Homo sapiens: one gene and its partners. The protein of the gene in region 1 interacts with the protein of each later gene in a biochemical or structural test. Each region holds a gene or a part of one and is shown on either strand. Other genes may lie near its edges. The genes, in order: KNG1, ECE1 and MEP1A.

What was found.
Region 2: of the proteins of KNG1 (region 1) and ECE1, one has a biochemical effect on the other in vitro, tested with the Homo sapiens proteins (one study listed by BioGRID).
Region 3: of the proteins of KNG1 (region 1) and MEP1A, one has a biochemical effect on the other in vitro, tested with the Homo sapiens proteins (one study listed by BioGRID).

The regions. Positions count from the first base shown.
Region 1 is NC_000003.12:186,734,294-186,738,119, forward strand, and holds part of KNG1 (kininogen-1 isoform 1 precursor), read left to right. Parts: intron 1-3,826. UniProt on the Homo sapiens protein: Kininogens are inhibitors of thiol proteases.
Region 2 is NC_000001.11:21,289,079-21,292,678, forward strand, and holds the start of ECE1 (endothelin-converting enzyme 1), read right to left. Parts: upstream 1,386-3,600; 5' UTR 1,337-1,385; coding exon 1,286-1,336; intron 1,138-1,285; exon of another isoform or gene 1,121-1,137; coding exon of another isoform or gene 1,079-1,120; coding exon 992-1,078; intron 1-991. UniProt on the Homo sapiens protein: Converts big endothelin-1 to endothelin-1.
Region 3 is NC_000006.12:46,831,237-46,835,062, forward strand, and holds part of MEP1A (meprin A subunit alpha precursor), read left to right. Parts: intron 1-1,837; coding exon 1,838-2,302; intron 2,303-3,341; coding exon 3,342-3,515; intron 3,516-3,826.

The DNA of each region.
Region 1 (3,826 bases):
TGATTAGATCATGTCTGGCATATCCTCAGAATAGAGTGTTAAGCAGCAACTTAAAAGCATCTTTGTGCGGAGCTCTTGATATGGGGAATGTCTTGTGTTATAATATTCAGTGAAAAAAAGGAGGCATAAAATTGAATATACATGATGTTATCAGTTGTGTTATTTTAAAGTACAGAAAATAATGTGGGAAAAAAAAGTGGCTCACGCCTGTAATCCCAGCACTTTGGGAGGCCGAAGTGGGTGGATTGCTTGAGGTCAGGAGTTTGAGACCAGCCTGGGCAACATGGTGAAACCCCATCTATAATATTAGGTTGGTGCAAAAGTAGTTGTGGTTTTTGCCAAAGTAATGGCAAAATCACAATTACTTTTGCACCAACCTAATAAAAATTCCAAAATTAGCAGGGTGTAGTGGTGCACACCTTCAATCCCAGCTACTCAGGAGGCTAAGGCACAAGAATGGCTTGGACCCGGGAGGCGGAGGTTGCAGTGAGCCGAGATTGTGCCACTGCACTTCAGCCTGGGCGACAGAGTCAGACTCCACCTGGAAACAAACAAAAAAACGAATGCCTCATAGTCATAGTGGTGATTTTTAGGTGATGGAATAACACTACTTTAATCTTTCTAATTTTCTGTATTACTTTTGTAACTGAAAAAAAGTAAACAAACTAGATTAAAGTAAATCAAAACTGATACTTTGATCTCTCTGCTACTTGAGCACTTGTTTCTATCCCAGACACAACCACCCTCTCTCTCTGATTTCATTGCCATATGACCACGTTAGGTTTACTTGAAAGGGACGCCAATCTATGCTATTCATGCTTTTTTCAGCTTTAACTTCTCACTTTATATTTCTGCTTTCTTGTGAAATTATTTTATTCTTTTTTCGTTGTTGTTTTTTAAGAGAGACGCGGGCCAGACATGGTAGCTCATGCCTGTGATCCCAGTACTTTGGGAGGCAGAGACAGGAGGATCACTTGAGCCCAGGAGCGAGACCAGCTGGAGCAACATAGCAAGACCCTGTCTCTACAAAAAAAGAATTAAAGGCCAGGCGTGGTGGCTCATGCCTGTAATCCCAGCACTTTGGGAGGCCGAGGCAGGTGGATCACCTGAGGTCAGGAGTTCGAGACCAGCCTGACCAACATGGTGAAAAACCATCTCTACTAAAAATACAAAAATCAGCTGGGTGTGGTGGTGGGTGCCTATAATCCCAGCTACTCGGGAGGCTGAGGCAGGAGAATCACTTAAACTCGGGAGGCGGAGGTTGCAGTGAGCAAAGATCATGCCATTGCACTCCAGCCTGGGTGACAAGAGTGAAACTCCATCTCAAAAAATAATAAAAAAAAAAAAGAATTAAAAAATTAGCTGGGTATGGTGGTATGTGCTTGTAGTCCCAACTACTTTGGGAAGCTGAAGTAGGAGGATTGCTTGAGACTGGGAGGTCGAGACTGCAGTGAGCTGTGATCGTGCCACTGCACTCTAGCCTAGGTGATAGAACAAGACCCTTTGGGCAACAGAGCAAACAAAAAGAGAGAGAGATGGGGGTCTCACTATGATGCCCAGGCTGGACTCGAACTCCTGGGAGCAAGCAATGTGCCCATCTCAACCTCCCAAGTAGCTGGGATTACAGGCGCACACCAATGCACCCAGCTCCCTTATTCTTTATTCTGAATGTTGTAGGAATAGGCCACCATGTATTGTATGTCAGAGGTTTGCCATCAAAAACAGAACCACTCATTCTCAAGCATGAATATCTAGTCTTCTTAGTAGTTACAGTTTTCTCTGTGGATTAATGAATCAACATTCTAGTATGCATATGTGTCTACATTAAGGATGTCAGGGGGACACAAAGAGGTAACCCATCAGATAGCTGCCAAGTCAATCTGAATATTGCAAGAATTTCAAACTTACTTTAGAGAGATAAATCTTTACTAATTTTTGCATTTAAAGAGAGCAATTTGGTTGCTTGGACATAGTCACCCAAGGCAGCCTTGATGGAAGCAGCCAATTTACTGGAAATCAATTAAACATATGATGAATTTGCTAAAAGCTAGTCTCCAAAATGACCAATTTGCCAAATTGCTAAATATTTATAGTTTTAATCTTGCCTTGGGTTTGCACATTTAGTCCTGTTTGGATGCATGTTGATTCCACGTTGGGTTCATATTTCAGATATGAAACACTTCCTGAATCTTCCATTTTCACACATTAGTGATTACAGTTTCATATAAGTTTTATTTTGCCCTACCACCACTGCTGCTGTCCCCAAGGCTGTTGATGCTCCTGTCTGCCTCTGCTGAGATGAATAAACTTCCAAGATCTGTGTGTGCACATGCAGAAATTTTTCCTTTGACAAAGTCCTAGGAATGTCAAATAATATGTAGATATATAAGACTTGATGCAAATTGCCAGAATCACCAAATATTTGCAATGATGCCAATTTACATTCACATCACCTGGGTATAAGACACCAGTTGAGGCCAGGCGTGGTAGCTCATGCCTGTAATCCCAGCACTTTGGGGGGCCGAGGCGGGCGGATCACCTGAGGTCAGGAGTTTGGGACCAGCCCAGCCAACATGGTGAAACCTCATCTCTACAAAAAACACAAAAATTAGCCAGGTGTGGTGACACTTGCCCGTAATCTCAGCTACTTGGGGGCGCTGAGGCAGGAGAATCACTTGAATTTAGGAGGCGGAGGTTGCAGTGTGTGTCACTGCACTCCAGCCTGGGTGACAGAGTGAGACTCCGTCTCAAAAAATAAAAGAAAAAAGACACCAGTTGAGGATCTTAATTTGAATTCTCTTCCTACCAGCAGTGACTGAGGCTGCTTGATTCCTATGCCTGGCCAATGCCACGTATCATCAATTTTTGTTTTCATCTTTGCCTGCATGGAAGGCTAACAATGATGTCTCATTGCTTTTTTAATGTGCATGTTTTTGTTTATTAATGAAGTTAAACTTTTTTTTAGGCTTAATGACCGTTTTAACTTCTCTGAAATACCTGCTCATGGCTTTTGTCCATTTTTAGTGTTGGGCTTTATATTCATACAGACATTGATTCTATATCATAGTTTTCCCAGCTTGCCTTTCTACTTTGCTTATTGTGATTTTTCAGAAGCAGTTTTCATTTTTCTCTAGTCAAGTTTTAGTATTTTCCCCTTCCTTCAGATTTCTTTCCTCTGCTTTTCACCTAAGAAAGGCCTTCCTCATCCTGGGTTTTGGTGAATATTTATTTATTTGTTTAGTTGTTTTTTGTTTGTTTGTTTTTGTTTTGTTTTGTTTCCCGAAACAGAGTCTCACTCTGTCACCCAGGCTTGAGTGTAGTGGCGTGATCTTGGCTCACTGTAACCTCTGCCACCCAGGTTCAAGCGATTCTCCTGCCTCAGCCTCCCAAGTAGCCGGGATTAGAGATGCTTGCAACCATGTCCGGCTAATTTTTAGTATTTTTAATAGAGACAGGGATTCATTATATGTTAGCCAGGACGGTCTCGAACCCCTGACCTCAGGTGATCTGCCCGCCTCAGGCCCCCAAAGTGCTGGAATTACAGGCAGGAGCCACTATTCCCGGCCAACACATTTAAATACTATGATTTAATACTAAATAATTTGGTTGAGAAATTGGGCCACAAAATATTTAATGGAAGATAGTGTTGAGTAGTGATTAAAACTGTTGCTAGAGATTAAAATAATTTTTTTTTCTTTTTGAGACAGAGTCTCACTCTGTCACCCAGGCTGGAGTGCAGTGGCATGACCTCAGCTCACTGCAACCTCCGCCTCCTGGGTTCAGGTAACTCCCCTGCCTCAGCCTGTCAAATAGCTGTCAAATTACA
Region 2 (3,600 bases), on another chromosome or scaffold:
GGCAACTAAGCGTCCATTCATCCTAAGCTCGCCTTTGGGAAGAGTTGTGTGCCAGTTCACCAAGTGGCCCCAAGATTCTCCCAAATACTTCCCTTGGTCTACCTGGCAGAAGTCCTCCGAGAATTGGGGTGCCCCAGCTCCTCTTTCTACACTGGCTTCTCAAGAGCCAGATCACTGGGTCTCCTAGGGTGTCCGCAGCGTTTCCAGCACCTTCCCACGCACCTGGCTGGCTCCAAACCCCTCCAGCACTGAGGTCTTGGCCACAACTGTCCCAGTGCAGCCCCCCAGGGACGGGAGGGCAGAAAGCAGCCTTGCTCAATGTCCTGTTACAAGGCAGGGACGGGGGTGGGGCCCTCCCCAGGAGTGGGCAGATGGGATGCCCACGGGCGGAGACCCTGGGGAGGGGAGGAATTGGACTTCCTTAGTAGGCTGGAAAAGGGGCAGGGAGAGGGGGCAGAGAACAGGTTTCTGGCCCCAGGAAACTCAGGTATTGGGAGGGCAAGAGGAAGAGGGTGGTACTGCCTCCCGGATAAGGTGACCAACTTTCCCAGTTTGCCCCGGACTGGGGGAGTGGGTTCCAGGGATGCAGGGCTTTCCACGCTAAAACAGAAACAGCCGTAGACTCTGCCGGTAAAGGGCCTGGGCAAGTCCCGGGACATGCACAAACTGTGCCTTCTGTGGAAAGGGAACTGGACCAGTTCGGGTCTCGGGGGTGCTTTCAACTCTGCCACCTGGGCTGTGGCCCCAGAAGCAGGTGGCCGGGAGGCTCTAGGGATGGCGGGGGCAGGTGAGGGGAGACTGGTGGGCTCCGGAAGGCTTCTCAGCGCGGAGCTCCAGCTGCGGGGAGGCGCGGCCCCTCCCGGATGCCGGGACGAGGGAGGGGAAGGGAGGGGAAGAGGCGGGGTAGGTAGGGGCGGGGGGCGCGGCAGCGGCAGCGCGCATGCCCGGGCCCGGGGCGCCTGGACCTCGGGAGGGAGCGGAGGGCGCCTACCTGCAGGCCGTTGGGGTATGCGTCGCCCTCGGAGAGCGAGTCCACCAGGTCCTCCTCGTCCAGCGTGGCCCGCTTGTACGTCGACATCTGCAAGGCCAAATGCAGCACGGACTCCCTCAGCGCCTCCATGGCTCTCGCGCCCGAATGGGGAAGCGGCCCCGACCCTGGCGCCGCCGCCGCCGCGCCCCGCCCCGGCCTGGACACCCGAGACCGAGACCGGCCCACGGAGCGGCCCGCGCGGGGAGGGGTCCCGCCCGCCTCCCGCCCCCGCCCTCCAGGCCGCGCCCGCCTCACCCCCAGCGCCGACAGCAGGGCGGACACCGGGGGCGGCCACACGCCCCGCATGCTGTGCCCCAGACGCCTGGTCCCGCTGCCCGGGTGGCCGGGATGGGATGGGCCGGGCCAGGCGTTGCACCACCTTCGCGGGCGGGGCCTGATCGGTTCGCCGGCGCCCGGTTCCCAACCTCCGGCCTCCCGGGGAGACCCCAAGACCCGAGAGGCCCGGGGGAGATGGGGACCCCTCCCTTCCCCGGAGGTCGGGAGTGGGGGCCCCCAAACTGAAGCCCCTAGCAGGCAGGAAAGGCCCTCACAGTGACCCCTCCTTCGAGAAAATCTTAAGTCCCCCTTCAACAACCGGGTCCCCAGTGGCAGATAACAAAAGTATCAGGAAGGTGCCCTCGATGTGGCCCAGAGCAATCAAGACAGGTTCCCCCCGGCATCAGCCCTTAGGTGTGTCTAGGGGGTTAATGCTAGAAAGACCAGACAAAAAAGGTGGGGTAAAAAGGTAGGTGTCCCCTTTCAGTTCCCCTTTCTAGCTCAGAGGCCTTTAAGCCAGAGTTCGTGAATGAGTTTCAGAAAATTTCAGAGAACTCCCTGACACGGGATGAAAGGAGCTGTGTGTGTGCATTTGGATGGCTGCAGGGTGGTCCGGTGGTCACCCCCGTGCTCAAAGGTGTCGCCCTCCCTGCAACACAAGAGAACCATTGCTCCAGGGGGAGTCAGAAGCCAGGAAGGGGACCCTTCTTTCCCATCTTCCCCCTCAAGACTCGGAGCCTCAGCCAGGTGCCCCCCTCCCCAGCCCCTGAGCCCTCTCCTATAACCCTAGGCAGGGAAAGGGGGCTCTCTCGGATATGAGGTGTTCAGTTAGGGACTCAGGCCCAGCACTGTCCCAACCAAGAACCCCAGAGAGGTCTAACCCAGCAGATTTCCAAAGGACTCTCCGCTTCTAGCAAGGCGGGAATCCCTGCATTTATGCGTACTTTTCAGCTTTGCAAAGTGCATTTCTGCTCATTCCAAATTTGATTCTCACAGTCACACATATGTGTGAATAAACAGGTTTAGAGGGGTGAGGGGCCTGACGTCACAGGGACAGTGAGGGCAATGGCTCCAGATGGTCTCCTGGCTTCCACTCCTGCCCTCTGACAGCCCCCTCAGCAGCCAGGATGAGCCTTTAAAATGAAATCTGGCTGAGGCCAGGCACCATGGCTCGCTCGCGCCTGTAATCCCAACACTTTGGGAGGCCAAGTTGGGTAGATCACTTGAGGTCAGGAGTTCAAGACCAGCCTGGCCAACATGATGAAACCCCATCTCTACTAAAAATACAAAAAATCAGCTGGGCCTGGTGGCATGCATCTGTAATCCTAGCTACTCAGGAGGCTGAGGCAGAAGAATCGCTTGAACCCAGGAGGTCGAGGTTGCAGTGAGCTGAGATTGTGCCACTGTACTCTAGCCTGGGTGACAGAGTGAGACTCCATCTCAAACAAACAAACCACAGAAATCTGGCTGGGTTCAGTGGTTCACACCTGTAATCCCAGCACTTTGGGAGGCTGAGGCAGGAGATCACTTGAGTCTAATTCTAGGCCAGCCTGGGCAACACGGACCCCATCTCTACAAAAAGAAAATATATATATATATATTTATATATTATATATTTTTAATTAGCAGGACGTGGTGGTATGCGCCTGTAGTCCCAGCTACTTGGGAGGCTTAGGTGGGAGAATCGCTTGAAGCCAGGAGGTGGCGGCTACAGTGAGCTGTGATTGCACCACTGCACTCCAGCGTGGACGACACAACAAGATCTTGTCTGAGTAAATAAATAAAATAAAAAAAAATTCTGATATTACCACTCCCTTGCTTAAAAACCCTCCACTGTCCTGGAATGAAATCCAAACCCTTCACCAGGCCCCATGGCCCCTGCCCACTCTGGGCCCTCATCTTGTGCTGCCAGCGCCCCCTCCCCCACCAACCTCCTCACACAACTCCTCAGTTTCTACAAGTTTCTTCTTCCCCCAAGACCTTTGTAGCTGCTGTTGTCTCTATCTGGAACATTTTTTCCTCCTCTCTACTCTTCCCATGGTCAGCTCCAACTTCAGATCTCAGCCTACCAGCTCCTCAAATGTCCCAGGAACCCTAAGCAGTCCCCCAAATTCTCTGTTACAGCATCCTGTTTGTTTTCCTTTACAGTACTTGTTGCAGACTGTTTTGTTTCCATGTCTTTATCATCACTGTCTCTGTCCCTCTCCAGAATCCACAGCTTTACTGGGGCTGGGACCTTGTCTGGCCTGTCCAACAGAGACTCTCCATCACCCGGCACAGAGTAGGTGCTCAAC
Region 3 (3,826 bases), on another chromosome or scaffold:
AATTTGAATAGCTTTTAAGTTTTGCAAAATGTATATTTTGACCAAAACACTTACACACAAAATGTCTCCATATGCATATCTGTATATAATATATGTTACATACATAATGCTTATATACAAACTTACATGAAAAATGTTGGCATACAACTATGTGTATGTACACACACATGCACACACACACGTTTTTACTGAGGCCAGGACTTCCTTATAGAAGACAATTCTGAACTAACAGGGATTAAATTTGTCTCAAACAATCGTAGTAGCATTATTGCCTGACTGATTTAGGGCAGCCCTGTGGAAGCATGTAAACGAAACCATCTTAATAATTTCATAGATGAATTTCTGCCTATGTGGTATAGCCTCTTGGGTCTCCTTCCCAGTGCCAGATTCCCCCATCTCAACCTCATTTTGACATCCTATATTAAGAAAAAACAAAGCAGGTACTAATCAGCAAGAACAGAATCCTATTCTCTTGACAGAATTCCCATGATCTATAACCTGCTGGATAAATAGTTCAAATCCTATATCTCTGTTCCTATTCCTAGACTTTCTGGCACCTATTACCCTTCAAGTCCATGTGTCTTCCACTAGGCTGCCATGCTCTCCGCAGGAGAGGGCAGCTGCCTAGATTTGTATGTTACAGAGGTGGTCGTGTGCCTTCTCTACCTCTCTCCTGTGTTCCCATGTAACCTACCTCTCTCCTGTGTTCCCATGTAACCTAACCACACAGGCCATAATCAGCTCCACCCTAAGAAACAGAACATTGTTAGACCTGTCCCTTGAAGTTGTACTTAGAGAGAATGGCCTGAAAACACAAGGGAGATTAAAGGTCTTTTCCTTTTCAGGGAAAGTATAGTTCTATAAGTAGATATCTGGTTAAAAGACACAGAAGAAGGAAAAAAGACACTCATCTGTAGGAACTCAGTTTAGCCAACATGACTTCCACTTGGAAGCATTTTTCCTCTCCTCTTCAAGCCCAACTCTAGGGAATACCCTGTGCAAAAATATCAGTGTAGGCACATCTCTTTGCGGAATTGAGTTGCTTTGCTTTCGCAGTTTCCTCTCTCCAGTACCCCCAAGCTCCTGTCTGGCTTCTTATACTGTTCAACCCAGGATCCTATGTTCTAGAACGGCCTTCTCACCATCTTTCCTCAGCTCTTAATTCGAAAGTCCCACTTCTAGTTCATGCTCAGAGAAAAAGCAAGTAGACCTAATCTTTATTAGAACGTGCATTTCCAGACAATAGTACTCTATTTGGCTTACTTTGCTCCCCTACATGGTGGACTTTCAGATAATATAAGGAAGAGAAAAAAGTCTAGATGTTGGAGAGGGAGTCAGTTTTAGGTAGGGAAGATCCAGTCAGTCCTACAGGTTATTATCTGCTCTTCAGCATTCCTTATAGCTCTCTGGCAACAAGTGACAGGTCGGACCATATGGAGTTACTATTTTTTTTACTTTTGGCTTAGAAAATGGCTATTTTATATGATTCAGCCTAACACTTGGGTTTTCTTTGCTAACCTTAGGGGTTACAGTTGAACCAGCCAACTCAGGAGGAAATCCAGAACCTGGATTCTTATAGTGGAAAACAAATTCACGGTTAAGATTTGAATGTGAATTTTAAAATAAATCATAGTATTTTAAAAAACAATTTTTCCTTATTAGGTATGTAACTTTGGAAAAGTTACTTAACCAGTTTATAACAGTACCTATTTTATAGGGCTGTTGTGAGGATTTAATGAGATAATTTATGGAAAGCACATGGCACTGTGCCAAACTCATAATAAGTACTCATTAAGTGTTGGTCACAGTTCTCACCAGCCTTGTTCTCTGTCCTCAGGAGATGATGACCACAATTGGAAAATTGCCCATGTGGTGCTCAAAGAGGAACAGAAGTTTCGCTACCTTTTCCAGGGCACAAAAGGCGACCCTCAGAACTCAACTGGGGGAATTTACCTAGATGACATCACTCTGACAGAAACCCCCTGCCCCACAGGGGTCTGGACAGTCCGGAATTTCTCCCAAGTCCTTGAGAACACCAGCAAAGGGGACAAGCTTCAGAGCCCTCGATTCTACAATTCGGAGGGATATGGTTTTGGGGTAACTTTATACCCAAATAGCAGAGAAAGCTCTGGTTACTTGAGACTTGCTTTTCATGTGTGCAGTGGGGAGAACGATGCTATCCTGGAGTGGCCGGTAGAAAACAGACAGGTGATAATTACCATCCTTGACCAGGAGCCTGATGTCCGGAACAGGATGTCCTCAAGCATGGTGTTCACTACCTCGAAGTCGCACACATCTCCAGGTGGGTGGTGTCAGCGCAAATAAGAACTGCCCCTTGAACCAGAGAGGCCCACAGATGTGATTCTGTGGTGCAAGAAAGAGTAACGTTCTCCTCACATTGTCTGTTTGGGAATACCAATAACATAGTCTTGTTGGAGTTTCAAGTCAAGATTTTCAATGCCATCACATCCTCCTTCCCTTTCCTAAATTCACTCATCAAACATCTATTGAGGGCTTACCATGTGCCAAAGTCGGTGCTAGGTACTTAGAATACAAGTGAATCAGGTGATCCCTGCCTCACTGAGCTCGTTGTGATTGAGGAAATAGATACTGCTAATCATTTATCAAATACTTGGAACTTGCTGGGCTCTGTGCAGAGCTAATGTACTTACTCCTAAAATAGTACTCAATGTTACTATGTTCATGAAGTAAACTTACATCAGTAAAGAAATGGGCAAACTATTTTTTTTTTTTTTTTGAGATGGAGTCTCCCTCTGTCGCCCAGGCTGCAATGTAATGGCGCATTCTCGGCTCACTGCAACCTCCACCTCCCAGGTTCAAACAATTCTTCTGTCTCAGACTCCCGAGTAGAGATGGGGTTTCACCGTGTTGCCCAGGCTGGTCTTGAACTCCTGAGCTCAGGCAATCCACCCGCTTTGGCCTCCCAAAGTGCTAGGATTACAGGCGTGAGCCACCACGCCTGGCACTAATTTTTTTTTTTTTCAAAAGAGAAGACTTAAGCCTTAGAAGAAAGAAGCCGTAGCTGTCCCTCTCTTTTCATTAAGAAAGTCGCTCAGTAGCAGACAACTGATCACTCAGAGCTGTGATTCTCTGCCTCTCCCATCTTTCAATTCTGAATTGCAATTCTCCTGGAAATAGTAAATAGCCTAATTTTTTTCCAACACTTTTTTTATTTTTATATTTATTTATTTATTTATTTATTTATTTATTTATTTATTTATTTATTTCTGATTCACAAAGCCCTGTATCCTCATTAAAGACAAACTGGAAAGTGAAGTCTAAAGAGGTAATGTGATTTTATGTTACCTACAACTTTGCAGCGATAAATGACACTGTCATCTGGGACAGGCCGTCCAGGGTGGGAACCTATCATACGGACTGTAATTGTTTTAGAAGCATCGACTTGGGCTGGAGTGGTTTCATTTCCCACCAAATGCTGAAAAGGAGGAGTTTCCTGAAAAATGATGACCTCATCATATTTGTGGACTTTGAAGGTACTTTTGTTGGTCTTCCTGAGTAAATAATCCTATGCTCTTGGCACTCTACTGATTTTATCCTGATTTTTAAAGCACACACGGAGGGTGGGGATGAGGTTAAAACAATGTGTTGTAGGAGAATCACATTTTATTCAATTGGTCAAGGACTCACATCTTTATTTTAATTGTCCTTGAAAGAAACTGAAATTTTAGTGTCATCTTTTTGATAATTTTATCAGAGGTAACCGTTCACTGATTTCAATTTAGTTTCCATCAGCCTATCCATGCTAATTTTATGCTTCATTTTGCAAATTCAATAAATAAAAATG